Linked DNA regions of Homo sapiens. The protein of the gene in region 3 interacts with the protein of the main gene of each other region in a pairwise test. Each region holds a gene or a part of one and is shown on either strand. Other genes may lie near its edges. The genes, in order: ABCD2, PECR and HAO2.

The links.
Region 1: the proteins of HAO2 (region 3) and ABCD2 come close enough for resonance energy transfer, tested with the Homo sapiens proteins (one large-scale study listed by BioGRID).
Region 2: the proteins of HAO2 (region 3) and PECR come close enough for resonance energy transfer, tested with the Homo sapiens proteins (one large-scale study listed by BioGRID).

Annotation. Positions count from the first base shown.
Region 1 is NC_000012.12:39,553,804-39,557,461, forward strand, and holds part of ABCD2 (ATP-binding cassette sub-family D member 2), read right to left. Parts: intron 329-3,658; coding exon 109-328; 3' UTR 1-108.
Region 2 is NC_000002.12:216,040,728-216,043,846, forward strand, and holds part of PECR (peroxisomal trans-2-enoyl-CoA reductase), read right to left. Parts: intron 1-3,119. UniProt on the Homo sapiens protein: Participates in chain elongation of fatty acids. Catalyzes the reduction of trans-2-enoyl-CoAs of varying chain lengths from 6:1 to 16:1, having maximum activity with 10:1 CoA. Has no 2,4-dienoyl-CoA reductase activity.
Region 3 is NC_000001.11:119,382,258-119,385,915, reverse strand, and holds part of HAO2 (2-Hydroxyacid oxidase 2), read right to left. Parts: intron 3,002-3,658; coding exon 2,850-3,001; intron 1,141-2,849; coding exon 863-1,140; intron 772-862; coding exon of another isoform or gene 730-771; exon of another isoform or gene 1-729. UniProt on the Homo sapiens protein: Oxidase that catalyzes the oxidation of medium and long chain hydroxyacids such as 2-hydroxyhexadecanoate and 2-hydroxyoctanoate, to the correspondong 2-oxoacids.

The DNA.
Region 1 (3,658 bases), on a different chromosome or scaffold from region 3:
CTTGCTGCCTTTTTTTCTCTGTGCTTAGCTTAACATACTTCATGCAGTATAACAGAATGTCTTTGAGCCTTTATCTAATAATTAACTTTTAAAATATGTCAAAACAAATTAAGATGTCTCATCTTCATTTTTAATTGTTTTCAGCACTGAGTCTTCTCCCAAAATTTTACATAGTTCATTGAGTCTCTGCTGCATTTTGGGAATTCCAGCTAGCTGAGATTCTAGCTTTTGTTTTTCTTCACTCAATGTCAAACGGATAGCAGTATCCAATTGTTCAAAGCGCCAACCTCCTTCACCATCAAACTGTAATAAATGTGTGTGGTATTTCCTGCATAATTAAAATGAAATAATATTATTAGCCATAATGTTGAAAAATCATTTTAGTTGTAGGTTTATCATTCAAATTGATACCCAAAGGCAAATTTTAAGTAGGTGCTATTTTACATTTGAGTTTTAAGGACATATCAAAAAGTTAAATACTGTGATTTTTTTAAAACCCAAAAGTCATTAATCTGATCTTTAGGAAAATATTATTATTTTTTTCATATTCTGGATGTATATTAACTGTAAAGGAAGACATGCTGTTGCATGTATTTAATTTCTTCATAACTCAATTTGGCTCCTGAATAAATAGTAAGGCATTCTTAGGATGGGAGTAAGGAAAGGAAGCTGAGGAAAGAAAATCAACATTAAAAGGTCATAGAAAAACTAAGGAAAATAAAGGAAATACAATAGCAACTCATTAATACACCATCCTTTGGGAATGAGTTCTTCTGCATAAGTAAAATTTTCTCAATAATAAATATAGTTTAAAAACATTTTAAAAAACAACTCTTTGATAGAAGAAATGTTTTAAAGATACTTCCACATTTTTATATGATTTAATCTCTTTCTTATGGCTCAGTTTCATAATTAGGAACTTCACAGAGGTACAGAGATTATTTTACTGATGAGATAGGAGATGATCCACCTTGTCCTAAAGGAGGCTGAGGTCACCATTCTGTCGGCTTTGTGGGGGATATTTGGTGAAAGAAAAGTTGGCAGAGCTGGTCCTGCATGGCTGAACCACCTGCATTTTTTCACTGCTGAACTGGCCTATATTCTTATGTGTCCTCAATTTTTCTGCCTTCCCTTATAGTTTTTCTCACTTCTTGCTTCCTTTTAAGATCTGGTCTGTCATTGTTAACTATGATCGGTGGGCTTTTTTCAAGCAGTTTCCTCCTGCTTTTTAAAAAATTGAGAGATAATTCACATACCATAAGTTCATCCTTTAAAGCGTAAAATTCGATGATTCTTAGCATACTCACAAGCTCATGCAACCATCACCAGTAATTTCAGAACATTCTCTTCAACCCCAAAAGAAACCCAATACCCATCAGCAGTCTTTCTCCATTTCCCTTTCCACCCAGCCCCTGACAACCACTAATCTCCCCTCTCTCTATAGATTTCTCTATTATAGACATTTCATATACATGGAATTATAGAATATGTGGCCTTTTGTGACTGACTTCTTTTACTTATACAAATGATTTCAACGCACAAAGGGTGGAGGAAGATGGTGGAATAGGACTCTACAGTGATCATCCGCTTGCAGGAAAACATCAAAATTACCTACACACAAAAATACCTCTACCTCTACAGAAGCTAAGGAAACCAGGCAAGAGTTCACAGTATCTGGTTACAGAATATTAATAAGAAAATAGTCATTGGAGTGGGTAGGAAGTGCAGTTTTACATTCTCCAAGTCACCCATGTCCCAACCACAAAGTGCACAGCTCAGAGAGAAATACCATCTACTTGGGGAAAAGAGAGGGATGTAAGCATAAGAGTTTGCATTGGAACACACTACCAGGCCTGCCACAGTAAAACCCAGCACTAGACAGACTCCTACAGACCCTCACTTCTGCTGGTACCTGCAGACTGAGCCTCTGAACCTGCCTCAGTGCCAGACAGAAACCTGTTGTCCCTGTCAGACAAACTCAATTTCTGGTCTGCATCACCACGAACCAACAAACTATAGAAGCCATGGGCTCCAAATAGCCCACAGTGGCAGGCAGGACTCAGTGGCTGGGGGCTCAGATTTCAGCTCAGCACTGTGCCAGCCTTGGTGGTCAAGGGATTCCACCCTGACACTGCACCATCCACCATCGTCCTGGGCTTAGAGTGCTCTTGGTGTTGCAATAGCTGCAGCAATCACTATCTTAGAAACCACAACAGGTGACCTGCCTAGAATTTCTGGATAGGCTTACTGTCAAAGAACTTTTCTCAGACAAAGCTAGACTATGCAAACTGGAATAAATTTCTAGGTCTTTAATGTGTAGACATCAATTCATGACCAGAAGGATCAAGAACAATCAGGGAAATGGGACTCACCAAATGGACAGAATAAAGTGCCAGTGACTGACTCTAAAAAGATGGAGATGTTTGACCTGCCTGACAAAAAAATTAAAATAGTTGTTTTTAAAGTAAGCTTAATGAATAATATGGTTTTTCTGCATCCCCACCCAAAATCTCATTTTGAATTGTAATCCCCATAAGCCCCATGTGTCAAGGAAGAGACAAGGCGTAGGCAGTTGGATCATGGGGGTGGTTTTCCCCATGCTGTTCTCATAATAATGAGTGAGTTTTCATGAGATCTGGTGGTTTTATAAGTGTTTGGTAGTTCCTCCTGTGTTCGTTCTCTTTCTTGCTGCCTTGTGAAGAAGGTGCCTTTCTTCCCGTTTGCCTTCCACCATGATTGTAAGTTTCCTGAGGCCTCCCCAGCCATGCTGAACTGTGAGTCAATTAAACCCTTTTTCCTTTATAAATTACCCGGTCTAGGGCAGTTCTTTATAGCGATATGAAAACAGACTAATACAGTAAATTGGTACTGGTAGATGGGGTGCTGCTATAAAGATACCCAGGCCTAACATGGTGGCTCATGCCTGTAATCCCAGCACTTTGGGAGTCTGAGGCAGGTGGATCATGAGGTCAGGAGTTCAAGACCAGCCTGGCCAAGATGGTGAAACCCCATCTCCACAAAAATACAAAAATTAGCTGGGCGTGAAGGCGGGTGCCTGTAATCCCAGCTACTCAGGAGGCTGAGGCAGGGAATTGCTTGAACCCAGGAGGCAGATGTTGCAGTGAGCCAAGATCACACCACTGCACTCCAACCTGGGTGACAGAGTGAGACTCTGTCTCAAAAAAAAAAAAAAAGATTCCCAAAAATGTGGAAGTGACTTTGGAACTGGGTAACAGGCAGAGATTGAAACAATTTTGAGGGCTCAGAAGATGGGAAGATGTGGGAAAGTTTGGAATTTCCTAGGGACTTATTGAATTGCTTTGACCAAAATGCTGATAGTAATATGAGCAGTGAAGGCCAGGCTGAAGTAGTCTCAGATGAAGATGAGAATCTTCTTGGGAACTAGAGCAAAGCTGACTCTTGCTATGTTTTAGCAGAGACTGGTGGCATTTTGCCCCTGCCCTAGAGGTCTATGGAACTTTGAACTTGAGAGAGATGATTTAGGCAGAAGAAATTTCTAAGCAGCAAAGCATTTAAGATGTAATCTGGGTGCTCTTAAAAGTGTTCAGTTTTATGCTTCACAAAGAGATGATTTGGAATTGGAACTTATGTTTGAAAGGAAAGCAGAGCATAAAAGTTTAGAAAATTTACAGCCTGG
Region 2 (3,119 bases), on a different chromosome or scaffold from region 3:
GGGCATAGTGTCGGGCACCTGTAATCCCAGCTACTCTGGATCCTGAGGCAGGAGAATTGCTTGAACCTGGGAGGCAGAGATTGCAGTGAGCCGAAATCATGTCACTGCACTCCAGCCTGGGCAACAAGAGTGAGACTCTGTCTCAAAAAAAAAGAAAAGAAAAAGTCCCTTATCTAATTTAATCCTCCCAACAGCTCTATGAAATAAATACTGTATGTGTCCCTGCATACAGGAACAAAATAGAGGCTTATAGAAATTAACTTTCTCACAATCATACGGCTAATAAGGGTAGAGCCAAGTTTCCATCTTAGGCATTCTCACCTTGGAGCTGCCAATCTTAAAAGAAAACACCATAGTGAAAGGCTGAATAATCTCATTATTCGGGGGGCAGTATATTCTTAAAAGATAGATGTACCCGCTTTCCTCAAAAACTGAAAAAAATATTTTTAATGATAAAAAGTGTTAGAATTACAAAAGAAAATCATGTCACTGAAGGCCTAAGGAAGAAGCTATTTGAAATTTCTTTCCCTTCTAAAGGTAAAACAGTGCAACCTGCGATAAGAAATAGTGACTGAAGTCTACTGTGAGAGAAGTGGAAAGATTCTCTCCACCCTCACTACTTGGAATTTTTTTCAGAAAACAATATGGCAAAACCATGTAGGTATTTCTTCTTTCCAACCAAGACCCTTAAAACTACAGTATCCTATGGACATCACCACATTGATGTTATTAGTAATGAAATACATGTGGGAGGGGAAAATAATAAGTAAAATTAAAGTTCTATACTGTGATATTGTGAAACATATATTTGGTCTTCAACCCCATCTCCCGCATACAACTCCTAATATCCTAGACTCGCCAAAGTGATGTGTTCTTATATGTTAATGATTGACTGATGGCTGGCAGCCCCTAGTTAGCTTCAGTATAGGGGCTGGTCACCAGACAGACCAAGGCATGATTACAGGGTTGGGACCTTCAGCCCATACCCACCCCACAACCTCTGGGGAGGTAAGAGGGGCTGAAGGTTAAGTTGATCACCAGTGGCTGATGGTTTAATCAACCATGCCTATGTAATGAAGCCTCCATAAAAACCCAAAGGACTGGGTTCAAGAGCTTCCAGATAGCTGAACACATGAAGGTTCCTGGCAGGTGGTGGGGCCAAAAAGGACACAGAAGCTACGTGCCCCTTCTCACATGCCTTGCCCTGTGCACCCCTTCGGCTGTATCTCCTGTAATATCCTTTATCATAAACCAGTAAATCGAAGTGTTTTCCTGAGTTGTGTGAGCTGCTCTAGCAAATTACTCCAACCCAAAGAGGGGGTCGTGGGAACCCCAACTTGAAGCTAGTCAGTCAGAAGTTTTAGAGGCCCAGACTTGTGATGGTGTCCAAAGCAGGGGGCATCCTGTGGGACTGAGCCCTCAGCCTGTGGGATCTGATCCTATCTCCAGTGTCAGAACTGAATGAGAGGACGCCCAGCTGGGGTCTGCTGCAGAACTGCTTGCTTGGTTGCTGTGCGGGGGAAGTAACCCCAAACAACTGGTCACAGAAGTCTTCCGTGCTAATGGTTGTTGTGTTGTGAGAGCAGAGGAAAACCAGTTTGAGTTTTTGCTCGCCTCTCACATACACCAATCATTTATTAACGCAAAAAAGGCCTTAAGCCTTGATCAGACTGTCAGCACCTGAAAGAGTACGTAGACCCTGGGTCCTTGATATGAAATTCAGATTCACCTGGGTTACATCAACCATCTATTAATTTGCTAGTAGCCACTTAATTATCTTTAACAACAGAAATTCAATACATTTGCATTTTATACCCTTTACTACATTTTTGGAGTGATTTAGAGTTATTAGCTTAGATAAACCTTTTAACGTCTGTGGATTTGTTTTGTTGTTTATAAAACTAGGATACTGGACTTTGTGATCTTTTAGGACCCTTCAAACCGCAAAGTTCTGTTATCTAGTCATGAGACACACACACACATAAAGGCATTTGCATGTAATATCAATATTTGATTTAAACTTATAAAACTTCTGGTTTTTTTTCTTGAGACAGAGTCTTGGTTTATCTCCCAAGCTGGAGTGCAGTGGCATGATCTTGGCTCACTGCAATCTCCGCCTCCTGGGTTTACGTGATTCTCCTACCTCAGCCTCCCAAGTAGCTGAGACTACAGGTGCCCGCCACCACACCCGACTAACTGTTATATATATACATACGTATATGTGTATATATATATACACATACGTATATGTGTATATATATATACATACGTATATGTGTATATATATATACACATACGTATATATGTATGTGTATATATATATACACATACGTATATATGTATGTATATATATACACATACATATATATGTATGCGTATATATATATATTTTTTTTTGAGATAAGAGTCTCACTCTGTCGCCCAGGCTAGAGTGCAGTGGCACAATCTCGGCTCACTGCAACCTCCGCCTCCCGGGTTCACACCATTCTCCTGCCTCAGCCTCCCAAGTAGCTGGGACTACAGGCACCCGCCACCAAGCCTGGCTAATTTTTTTGTATTTTTAGTAGAGACGGGGTTTCACTGTGTTAACCAGGCTGGTCTCTATCTCCTGACCTCAAGTGATCCACTTGCCTCAGCCTCCCAAAGTGCTGGGATTACAGGCATGAGCCACCATACCCGGCCAAATTTCTGTTTTTGTACATCAAAAATGATGAATACAGAAATTTCATATGCCTTCATTCAATATATATCTCAAAGAGAGCACAAAATAGCACCATAGCACCCCACCCCACCTAGCAGGCCTGATTCTTCTGCTCAGATATGTAAGCCATTTACTGGAGGAACAAAATGGAATTAAATCTTTAAAACTATAGCATGCTCTTGCCTCTTTTCTGTCTCCTCTTTCGAAACATATACTGAGAATATTTTTCAGGGTTCAAATTCCACCAACCTATGCATGCACAAAAAGCTCAGTTCCATAATATAGATAGTTAGATATTTTCTGTGACTAGGAATATTTCATTAAAAAAATCACATCATGAATATAAACATTTTGTACATTTTGATGTTCTATAAGAGAGCACCCTCATCTCTTAAGTAACTACTTATAATAAATTTTA
Region 3 (3,658 bases):
TCAGTTATTACCCAATATTTACTCTTGGCTCACCATGTACATCAAACATTTATAAATCTCAATGTGCTTCTGGAATTTGAATAAGGATTTTGGAGCACCTCAAGGCCAATCTGTGATTAATGAGAACTGTTGAGTTACTTGGCTTGGTGTCACAGTTGCCCACTGGTTGAAAAGGCTGGCTTTAGTATCTCTACTATAGCCAGGGATTCCCACTTTATCATGGCTGTCTCTCTCTGAGGCACTTCTTGCCATTTAATTGTAGGATTTTAATGGGGAAGGTCCCCTTTGTAGTCACCTAGTTCAGAGATTACAAACAAATGTGCTATAGCATCCTGGTGCTCCACAAATGAGCTCTATGTGTGCAGAGATATTGATTCCTCAGTTTCAAGGCAGTAAGGTAGAACCTGGCCTGTCTAGACTGTCTGGCCAGTCACTTTGGTCATGAACATCCCCTTTGGAGAGTCAGTTTGTCTATGTATGCCATCCAAAATTAGCATTTTCTGAGTGTGTCATAAAGTAGAAAATGTTACATGAACTTTTTTAGTTTACTCTCCAGTTCGTGCAAAAATATTTTCCGTGGCTTTCCTATTTCTCAGCATCCAGCTCTGGCCAGAACACTTCTGGTGACAAGTTGGGCAGCTCCAAGGGTGAGAACATTTGGTCTTATGTTGATTGTGCTTGTCTGGAAACTCTAGGGAGCAGGAACCATATCTGCTTTTTGAAACTGCTTTATCCGCAGTGTCTGGCACAGAGCAGGTGTTCGATAAATGCCTGTGGAAAGAAAGAATGGAGGAAAGGAGAAAAGAGGGAAGGAAATTTGCCTCTTGTAATGCCTGTCCATCGAATTTGGTATCTTTCTTACCTTTTTAGGTGATTGAAGATCTGTTAGTGTTAAGTTCCTCCTCAACTGGTTTCGAATGTCATGTCGCCTGTTGCCACATACAGGTGTATCCAAAGTTATTACCAAAGCTTTGAAACCTAGGGATTCTACCCTCTGGATCAACTGTTTGTTCAGCTGCAGGTCTGGATGCACATAGAGTTGGAACCATCGGAGGCCTTCGGGAGCTGCAATGACAATGTCTTCAAGGCTACAGCTGGCAAATGTGCTGGTGATGTAGCAGATACCAGCCGCTTGGGCAGCTGTAAAGCAAAGGACATGACTCAGGCTGGAGGGCAGAGGCCTCTGGACTGGGCTGAAAACCTTGGGAGTCTGTGTAGCCTCTGGCCATCTTGCCCCATGAATGCAGATAAAGCTTAATTTCATTCTGCTTCCTTGTAAGAAAGGGATGGAAGGCAATTTGATCAGGCTGAGAGACCTAAACCTTTTTGGGTTCTCCTCTGTATAACCTGTCTTACAAACCCTCTACTCGATAACAAAATATTTCCAGCTAAAGATGCCATGCAATCTCCAGAATCATGTTGGTTGTGTTATAGCCTTCAGACAGGCAACTGGGCCTCTTATGAACTCCTTAATGAAGCAGAAGAGAATTAGAGAGGGCAGAGGATGAGGGAATGTAGTTCCAGTGGAGAATCCTGAACTTCATGGTGGAAAAAGCATAGCATATGAAATTAGAAGAATGCTAGTTCTACCCCTTCTTTGCTGTGTGGCATTGAGTCTCTCATTTTCTTTATCTGTAAAATAGGGAAAATAATAATACATGTCTTTAGGATTGTTGGGAGACTGAATAAGATACTAGCTATGGCAGCATTCTTTACATTGCAAAGTGGTGTACTGCATAGATACCAGTGCTAATGAAGTTGATGGTGATGACGTTCATATGGCTGCTGCTGACTGGCAGATTTCCCATTTCCTACTTTATTCATTTCAATGAAATCTCCAACAGGTTAATGTCACTGTCCCACTATAACTCATGGGCAGAGAATTTGGGCTAATCAAAAATTAACATTTTCAATTTTTCATGTCAACAGGAGATACCCCATTCTTTCATCCTACCCCCAAACAACACATTCAACCATGATGACTTAGTAAACTAGTCACATTCATATAGGATATTAATATCTCAACCTAGCTAGACCTGGTCCCTAGACCCCATCAAGATGGATGTCACATTCAGCTCTAGAATCCTTGAATCCATAGCTTCCTTCATCATGGAGTCAAAGGAAAAGACCTCAGGGAAGCGCTGAGAAATTCACAAAAACAGATGTGACTTAGAGTGAAGATTACGAAAGAGTCCCAAGAGCATTTTCAGCCCCATCTCTCCTTTTCTATTTATTATTATTATTATTATTATTGGCGGTGGTGGTGGTGGTGGTGGTGGTGGAGAATGTGGGATGAGAATTAGGTTGACTGGGAAGGAGATGTAACCCAACAATAAAATCTTTGTCAAACAAGATGACAAGGTCAATTGAAGAGAAGGAAAATGGAATAGTTGGGCAACAGCAGCTTCCAGGGCCTTGTGTTAGGACCTAATGTCGTGATTCTCTCCTCATCCTAAATTCAGAGTCTGCCATTCAGCCCTAGCCCTGGCCCATCAGGGGCCAAAGAGGGCCCTAGCCTTGGGGCTGCGTTAAGCATCCCTTTCCCTACAGATGGTGTGAGCCAGAAGGGCCAGCACCCCTGTTCTGAGGGATGACTTGGTTAAATTTTAGCACCTTCTTATTCATCTGTAAACCCCCTTGCACTCTAACTATTCTTTATTATGGAAAATGAATGTTTTCTCAATCTTAGGTTACACAAACGTAGCTTTAAGCATTCCCTTTCCTGCCTTCCTTAGTGTTAACCAGATTATGTTCCTAAGGCCCTTCTAGAGAGAATCTTGGAGCCTCTGCCACTGCTCTGAGGGACACCTCCTCCCGGAAAGGAGCCTCGAGGTGGGGATGGTTCATACCTCTTGCTGTGCTCATTTCCCCATCAGGCCAGACAAGGCAGTGGAACCCTGTGGGTGCGATACAAATAGGGGCACTGATCTCCTCCCCTTGGATTGTGGTTCTGGTGTCCACCTCAGACACATCTCTCAGGTACCGCGGACGGAGGCGAATTCTGTGCCGGACAACAAAGAGATCTTCTGTTGGTGAGATGATTCTGCAGCAGGGAGGCGTTGTCTGGGGTGGACCCCCCTGATTCCTGATACAAGTCTAAACCAGACAGGGTCCTGTGGAACCTTGGTGGGTTCAGTTGGCTGAGAGCTGAGTAACCTATGTTGATCCAGGAGGAGACTTATCTCCAGAAAGCCGCTTCCAACACCTCATTCCCCATTTCCCAACCTTCTCTGAACCACTTTGTGCATACCAAGTCCACACTATTCCTGCTTTGCTCTGTCAGAAGTCTGTGTCTTTGAGTCATGCCTCCCAGACTACACTGCAGCACTTGGATGGTTTGGTTCATCATAACAAGGACTAAAAAGAAAAGAATAGGTAGGAAGAGGTTCCAGTCTCTTTTCCTCTCAGGTTAGGCCCAAGTCTCCAGAAAGTAAGAAAAGGTCACTGAATGAGAACAAATCCCAGGGAGTGATTGAGGCTTTTGTGATAGAGGCTAGTTAGTTTGAAGATTTGACTTAAACACTGCTTTAGAAGAAGGTAGGAGAATTTACAAATAATAAATATGCAAAACACACTTTTTAAATAAATGCATACTTAGCCTCAGGTGTCTAAGATTTTCATTGTTTATACAATATTATTATTTTTGCACATAAACTTA